Regions from separate parts of the Homo sapiens genome. Here regions 2 and 3 are each linked to region 1. Evidence: fine-mapped expression QTL. A gene starts in region 1. Each other region holds a variant in brackets. All regions are shown on one strand. Distances are between the middles of the regions.

What was found. PIP is the estimated chance that this variant, and not a neighbour inherited with it, causes the effect.
Region 2: its variant is fine-mapped to the expression of PKHD1L1 in whole blood (INTERVAL, PIP above 0.99).
Region 3: its variant is fine-mapped to the expression of PKHD1L1 in whole blood (INTERVAL, PIP above 0.99).

The regions. Positions count from the first base shown.
Region 1 is chr8:109,360,824-109,363,591 of GRCh38, reverse strand. It overlaps PKHD1L1 (PKHD1 like 1), which reads right to left and starts at 1,131. Exons shown (of 78, transcript NM_177531.6): 1 at 939-1,131. The coding sequence starts at 1,011.
Region 2 is chr8:109,517,259-109,520,026 of GRCh38, reverse strand. PKHD1L1 (PKHD1 like 1) reads right to left here. Exons shown (of 78, transcript NM_177531.6): 73 at 1,519-1,860. Among named protein-coding and RNA genes, the nearest start is that of EBAG9UORF, 21 kb to the left of the region's middle. The variant G/A (reference allele first, on the strand shown) is at 1,379.
Region 3 is chr8:109,451,078-109,453,845 of GRCh38, reverse strand. PKHD1L1 (PKHD1 like 1) reads right to left here. Exons shown (of 78, transcript NM_177531.6): 41 at 2,697-2,768; 42 at 1,566-1,722; 43 at 972-1,128. Among named protein-coding and RNA genes, the nearest start is that of EBAG9UORF, 87 kb to the left of the region's middle. The variant C/T (reference allele first, on the strand shown) is at 1,565.

The sequences.
Region 1 (2,768 bases):
GCTGGAATCCTAAAAGAAATTTTCACAGTAGGTAGAAAAATTTAAGGGATGATACAAAGAAAGGCCACAGAAATTATTAATTTCTCAAAATGGATGTATATAAAAAGGCTAAGGGAATTATGATTGGCTTGTTCAGTTCTGTCTTAAAAAGGTTTAGAGTGGACTTCACCTATAGTAGCAAAAGCTCTCCAACATAAAGGAGACCAGTTCCGAGGCCCCAGACCCAGTGCCTCTGTACCTCGGGTCTGTCTTTGCCAAGAGCTCCAAGGTGTTCTTATTCCCGCACATTCATATCTCAGGGCAGCCCAAGAGTAGGAAACTCCAGCGGGGAAGCTGGATCCTATCTCCAGACAGTGCTGCTCCTCGCCTATCTCAGGTTCATCCTCCTGTTATCTCCACAGACAACTCCAATTTCTTATCTTATCAGTCTCTTCCCAGCCCTCTTCTGGGTATTACTTTGAAAACACAGGGCAGCTGCCCCTGGAAATGACTGACACCTGCCACGAAGTCCCATCCCCGTCCTACTGGGGGTTGTTGCCCTTTCTGTTGTGAGGAAAGCGACCCAAGAAGAATGGAGGAAAAGGGACTCAGGTTGCCTCTTCCCAGTCCCCACTCCCCCGCCAAATTTCAGTCTACTTGTGTCACTTTGTGGGTGCCGGTGGGAGATTTCATCATTCAAGTAGCAGCATTGATGAGTTAAAAGGCAATCTCTCGCAATCTCTTTCTCTGTGTCCTTGTCTCTGTTTCTCTCTCTCTGCGTCTGTCTCTGTTTGCTAGGCCTGCTATCCAGCTCCCCTGGTCCCCAGGATCGTCATGCAACCGCACCCACAGCCTCAGCCAGGTGCCAGGTGGTCCTGCCTCTCCCAGGACCCCGGGAGCAGGGGTAGTGTCTACGCGGGCCTCTCCTGCTTGCCTGCCTAGCGTGCCCAAAGGGTTACCTGTGCTGGGATCCGCGGCACACAGGAGCAGCCCACAGAGGCCCCAAATACCCAGGAGCCACAGGTGTCCCATTGAAAAGCCAGTTCTGCGGAGTTGGTGCCCTCCGCTCGCAGCTGGCTCTAGTGCTGGAGCTCGGCTCCTGGGACTGCGACTCGCTGGCGGGCCCGCTTCGTCCCGGGAGAGCTGGGGAACTGGGCCGCCCTCCCGTGGCCTGCCCCGCCCCTGCTGTCGGGCTGCTCCTCTGGGATTTGCATGCGCGCGCGGACACACACACACACACACACCCTGGAACCTTCGCGGGAGAACCAAGCCGGCCCCGAGCCAGTCCGTGATAATCAAACCTCCACACTCAAACCTGGGTGCTGCCTTCCCAAGGCTGTCCCCATAGGTGGAAGGGCCTTACTCCTTTTGGCGAAAGGAATCAATGGTCATTGAGGTCTCCCTAGGTCTCCTTCTCTATTTTCTTTTTGTTTTTTTTCTTTTCTTTTCTTTTCTCTCTTTCCCCGCGTACTTTCATCTGCCTGTCTGCCTTGGTCATTAATCCTCCCCAGGTGGGCCTATAAGACCACCTAATACACAAACCCCACGCGTGTTTACCCCTTCACATTCATATGAGATTGTGCTCTCTCTTTAATTGACAATCAGTAGACTTAGGGCGAAGGCTTACTGTTGGCATGGAGGGAGGTCCAGCACTGCTGACCTGTTTCTGGGATGCCAGATAGCAGACGAATGAAACGCAAGTTTCTCTGACCTCCCTGGAGAAGGCAGTTTATTATTCACCACTGAATGCTCCCCAGGGGCTAATTCCAAATCCTCTCACTGTTCTTAATATCTTAACCTCAGGATCTCTTGATTGCCCACCTCTCCCTACTCTTTAAAAGGTGAGAAGGGGCTGGGCACAGCGGCTCACGCCTGTAATTCCACCACTTTGGGAGGCCGAGGTGGGCGGATCGCTTGAGGTCAAGAGTTCGAGACCAGACTGGCTGACATGGTGAAACACCATCTCTACTAAAAATACAAAAATTAGCCTGGTGGGGTGGCGCATGCCTTGTAATCCTAGCTACTTGGGATGCTGAGGCAGGAGAATTGCTTGAAGCCGGGAGGCGGAGGTTGCAGTGAGCTGAGATCACACCCCTGCACTCCAACCTGGGCGACATAGTGAGACTCCGTCTCAAAAACAAACAACAAAAAAAGATGAGAAGATCCACCTACCTAGTTTGCAGTTTCTACATTTTAAAATGTTATGTGTTTTTAAAAGATATTAAAAGATTATTACCCAAATAGCAATGCATAAGCTTCTATTGGATCCTGGTTTGTAAAAAATAATAATAATAATATAAAGCTATGAAGGACGTTTGCAGAACAAATTAGGGAAAGTGAATATGGATTAAGTAACAAGTATTGAAAGATATTATAGAAGCGTTCATTTTATTAGGTATAATAGTGGTATCATACTTTAGTCAAAGAGTGTTTTCAAGTGATGGAATTGCATGATGAGGTATTTGGGGTCATAGTGTCTTTATGTCTGGAATTTACTTCAAAATGGTTTTGCTGAAAAAAAATCTGGCAAATTTTAAACAATGTTTGAATTTAAGTGTAGGTATGATCCTTTGCACTTTTTTATTAGTTTAAAAATTTTTATAAGTAGAAAATTTTAAATTCTCTTTCTTTCATTCCCTCCCTTCCTTCCTTCCTTCCCTCCTTCCTTTCCTTTTGTTCCTCTCTTTCGGGAAGAAGTATTTTTCTTCCATGACATGGTCAATCCCCTCTTTGAACTCTTTGTGAAAACTCTTCTCTTCCCATCTTACTGATTATTATTCTAACAATAT
Region 2 (2,768 bases), 160 kb before region 1:
CAGAGTGATAATGTGGTAGGTGCATAGGGTCAATGCCTAGAAGCAAACCTCTTGGGAAAATGAGTGAAGATCTCTAGTGGCATAAAGTGAGAACTTCACCCAGTACCCAGGTTTACACAGAGCCTGGGAGTTTAATGATAAAGTGACTGAACACAGGTAGATAGGGTAGATCCCAACCTAGTGGGGCTGCAGTTTATATATGTCTGGACGATCTCTTTAGGAAAAGGAATGCAGAAAAATCATACCTTTGTAGCTTTCATAATAACATTCAATGATTTGACCACATTATGAGGACCTCTCCTAAGGTATTGAAAGTGAAAGCCCCTCCCAGGACTTGTATCAGTGAGGGGGCTTGAAGTGTAAGCTTCATTAACTGGATGGTAAGTCTTCCTCTGACAGATACCTGCCTTTCCTGTTCTTGGGGAGGGGTACACCTAGATCAGAGTACTTGTGCTTGACCACTGAAGACAAAGGCATGGTTGCAGGTTAGCAGTGGGGGATATTATTGCATCCCAGAAGACCAGGAAAGTTCAGTAGTACCTCAAGAGATGCATATGTAGAGCAGAGAAGATGACCCACTCTGTACCAGAGGCTGTGAAGACAAGATGATAACATGAGGACGGAGGCCAGAACAGCCCCTTGGTATTCAGACCCCAACTTGAAAGGAGCAGATGGATAGAGAAAATTTGAAGAGCTGAGCATTTACTCAAGTGCCCAAACTGAGTGACCCTAAGGAAATGATTTCAGCCAGCAGAGATTTCTCTGATGGGACAGTTGAGCTTATTTTTTTATCTCTGATAAAAAATAGGAAGTGAGGGACACAGAGAGGGGATGATGGCTTGTGAGGATGATTCGCTCAGTCACAGGAAATAAAGACAGATTATGTACTTGCACATCTGCCCTTTTTGGGCTGAATCTGTGACTTTACTGTGGAAATCTAACCCACCAATCTACTGCTCAGAATATCCAAGAATATTTACTCTTTTTCTTAAGAAAACATCCACAGTCCTTCCTTTGACTTCCAAAGCTTTCCACATCTAGCACCTGTCTACCCCTTGGCTACACCTCCAGCAGCTTGTCCTTCCTGGCTCCTTCCACTCCAGACCAATCGGACCTGTTTCCTCTCTTCAAATGCACCAAACTCTCACCAACAGTTTCCATAGCTTGAACACTCTTTTTCCTCTGTCTTTTCATTGACTATCTTCATCCTTAATCTCTCATCTGTAAGGTCACTTGCTTAAGTAGGTCTTCCCAGATCTTTTTATATTAGATCAAATTCTTTTGTTGAACTTATTAATCATCACAATAACAAAACAGAGATTCAAATTCCTTCCAATTCTAAAACAGTTTGGTAGTACAGGAGCAAAGAAGGAAAAAG[G/A]GTCTCTGGGCACTTAGAGGGTTCAGGATGTGGGGTTGATGGGATTTCCTGAGGCCAGGCTCACCAAGCCCTGATCAGGTTATTTATGGATATGGATTTGGTAATTGCATTCCTCCATCTCAAACACCTGTTATTCATACCTGTGGTGCCATTGCTTATGAACTGAATAGGAGGGTCTCCAATCTCTATTTCAATTATGAATCCCATGGATCTCTTCCTCCTCAGACTCTTCCCTCTTATTTTGCTGATACGGATTTTGTCACTTGGTATCTTTAGGAACAAGGCAAGATTTTTAACCAGATTGTGAGAGGTATAAAAGTCATCTTCTGTTGCAACAGATAATTGGAAAGAAACAAATATCACTGTGGCAGTGTGAATTTCAACAGGTATAGTTCCTTTAACCAAAAGATAAAGCATCTGGTAGGTTCCATCAAAGTAGTTTTCACCAAGGACAGTGGAATCCAGGTTAGGAAGGAATTGGTCTATGAAGGAAAAAAGCCAGAACATCACAGCTAAGTATTTTATATTATCACAATCAACATGCGTTACTTAATGTTTGTTTGAATTTAGAAAGTCCCCCAAATTCAACTTTATCATTCTTTCATAAGAAAGCATACCTTTTTAAAAACAAAAACACTTATAGAACTGACCTGCGAAATTAAAGCCACTCCTTTAAAAAATACCACAAATAATCATTACACATTGTTTGTTTTTTAAAAATTAGCTATATAGACACAGTATAAATGAGAAACAAATCAAGTTATGATCCCAGGAGCCTATACTGTAGTTGAAACCCTATTCACATGCTCATAATTTTAAAGCCTTGACTGAAGGCATTTGGTAATTTAAAAATATAAATTTAACTTTACTAGCTATCTAATTTATACAGTGCTATATGCCAACTCTTAAAAGAGCATTTACAATTCAGTGTTTCTATTTTAACTAAGGACAAAACTGTGTAATAAAAATGAAGTATACATTAAAACATCTCAGAAGAATCTTATACCAACTAAACAGGCTTACATTTCAGCCTGAAAAATGTTTGGCTAATGCAAGACAAATTCTGCTAGGAAACTGAATTTTACAAAAGTGATTGAGATCATTATAATGAATGAATATATGTATGATTTTATGGCAGAGTATCAACAATTTCTAAGAGCTAACAAACCCACTAACACTTATTGAGCCCAGACAAACACTGAATTGTGTAATAGTGGTGGAATGAGATATGTAGCTTCTTACCACATTTCATTGTGAGGCTTACTAGGAAAAAGAAATTAAAATTTTAGGAAGAAGAAGGAATTTCACAGTAATGAAAGGAGCAGAGACAAAGATCATAAACATTTGGGTAACTCCCAAAATATGTATAGGTTCATAACACAGGGATATT
Region 3 (2,768 bases), 90 kb before region 1:
CACAGCACCTCAAAATATAAATTAAGAACAAAAGCAATTAAAGAAAAGCATGTTTATAAAAACCATTATAATGTCAACATTAGCTTTGAACTTTTACCCATTAATTTGCACTCTCAACAGCTATAGCCTGATTAGCATTATTAAAGATCATACCAAGATACATTTTTATGAGACTAGTGTAAATTTATAAATTTGTAAGTAGTAAAATTTTATTTGTCCAAAGGTCCAATATTTAATAACTTCAAAAACCTGAAACTTTTCTATTTTCCCAGAAGTTAAAAATAGTAAATAACAATGCAGGAGTCTTCCGGTGGCTAAGCCTGTTATGGCAAAGTTTGTGCACTAAATCCTCAAGCAGTCTACTCTTACCAATTAATGATTCTTTTACATGCAATTATCACAGTTGTGGTTATTTAGTTTTCCATAGTAAAAAATAAAACACAGCAGCAGAGACAAACCCAGGCAACAACATAAACAGGTTCACAGGCAAAGGTGAAAATCACAACCTATCTTCCAAAGGGAGTCAAGGGGATCATTTAGGATAGACCTGAACAAATCTCGATGACTTTTTATTTCCTGGGACCCACTACATCAGTGTTTTTCAAAGTGGAAAATACCTTTTTTGTTGTGATCTAGTGAAAGTGGGCGGGCATGCTCACACCTCCCCACATTGTTATTGAACCAAAAGTTTCATAAAACAACATTTAGCTTTAAAAGGTACTTACCCATATGCATGCAATCTATTCTGATGCTGTCTATCCTATTTAATTTTTAAAATGCTGGCTGCAACACATTAAATAATATCATAATCACAAATGGATTGTAATACTCAATTTAGAAAGCCCAGGACTACACTGTATATTAAAAAGATAGTGCAACTATGTTTGTTCATAATTGTGGATTTTGATTAAATCAGTTTCACAGAAATATTTATCAGGCAGAGTCCAATGAACAGATATTCAGAAATTTACCCTGAATAAGCAACATTTTCAAAATAGGGGTGCTTTGATCCAGCAGAATGGTCTGTCCTTTTGTAATAACAACAAGAGATCCTTCTTCTGGGGGAGATTTTCCCCCCCATGAGAAATTGGAGGACCAGGCATCAACATAAAGAAAGTCAGCATTATCCTGTAATAGAACATAAGAGACCTTAAAATTTAGGGATTTTACCAGAGTTTTTCATTCGATTTTTCAAAAAGCATTTTATTACAATATAAATATATTTATATTATATAGTAAATATATATAAACAATAAGCATTTTATTAATAATAAAATCTAACCTACTTAAAATGTGTCATAATTGCCTCTTGGTTTATTTCACAATAATGATCAAGTTTAAAAAATCTATTACCAATTACCCCACAACTCAGAAAAATCAAAAATCTAAAATAATAAAAATTTTAGGAAAAGCAACAAAAAATGTAAGCTACTTTAGATTTATTATGGTCACAGCTCAGTTATTTTTTTGGAGACATTAAAGTAAAACAACAATTACCAATTAGCCCACCTCCCATAATGCTGGTTTTCTATTGCTGTGATTACTATACCCAACAGCACTATTA[C/T]CAGTTTGGCCATGCCGACACCTCTGATGTGGACACAAACTGGAGCCCACCCTGATAGAGTATGGGCATCTGTCATGCAGATGATGTGTGTCTTGTTGGAATACTCAACATCACATTTGGCTTCAGCTATGGTGATATGAACATCCTCCATATTTTCACTGTAAAAAAGAGGGAAAACATAACATGTATGTTTTTCTCAAATATCTAGATCACACTGTCAAACCCTTTTATTCCTATGTATTATTGCAAAAAAAAAATGACCTGATTCTATCAGCCACCAAAGTGTAGATTGATGCTTTTTTTCAATATTAAGACTTCAAAATATTTATTGAAAAAAAGTAAACAAAGAGGTTAAGAGTCCAGAAAATAGGACTGTAACTAGCAGATGTTCCAGTGTTGGGGAAAGAAACAGTGATTGTTGTTGTTCAGTGATTCTATGTTGATCTCCCAACAGGTACTTTTAAAAGAGATTTTCAAGGATCACTTGTCCATGTGACATTTTCATCATGTTTGTGGACTTTAGAACTTAACCTCCAGATAAAAATGCAAGTTCAAGGTAATCATAACTGCTTGAGGAGTTACAATGAGCTTCTATGGTGTATGCGATCTGGTGTTTTGACTTCAGCCTTCCGCACCTGAATAATGATGACAATGCAGTACACAAATTTGAGCCAAATAATGAGTATGTTTAAGAAAAAGAAACTTGAGCAATTACAGTGGAATAGAACTGCTGTATGGAAAGATGTTTCTTTGATCCAATGAAGCAGATCATGGCTGGAGATAAGATGATGGAGAAAGCATAACAAGAAGGTGATTTATATTTGTGATGCTACATACTAGGATTGGGGGCAAGATGTCTAACCTGTTTAATCTGTCTTCTAACCATAAAACGAGGTAAAAACATCTCAGGAAGTAAGGCAGGACTTCTCCGTGGGTAGGCAGGTAGTTGCCACAAAATAAATACTCAATAAATGTTAGCAATTAGTACTATTTTTGCCTTAAGCTTAAGTTACGAGCATATAGGTACACATTGCATGACTGTATTTCTGCACTGTCCGGGCATAGGAGAAAGCAGGAGTAATGGCTCAAGTCTGGAAATGCACAATGATGCGTGTTTGTGTGGAGACAGTACCTGAATCCTGATCCCACGACTGTCAGTCTGGTGCCCCCTGCTGTACTGCCTCTCTTAGGAGATACTGCAGTG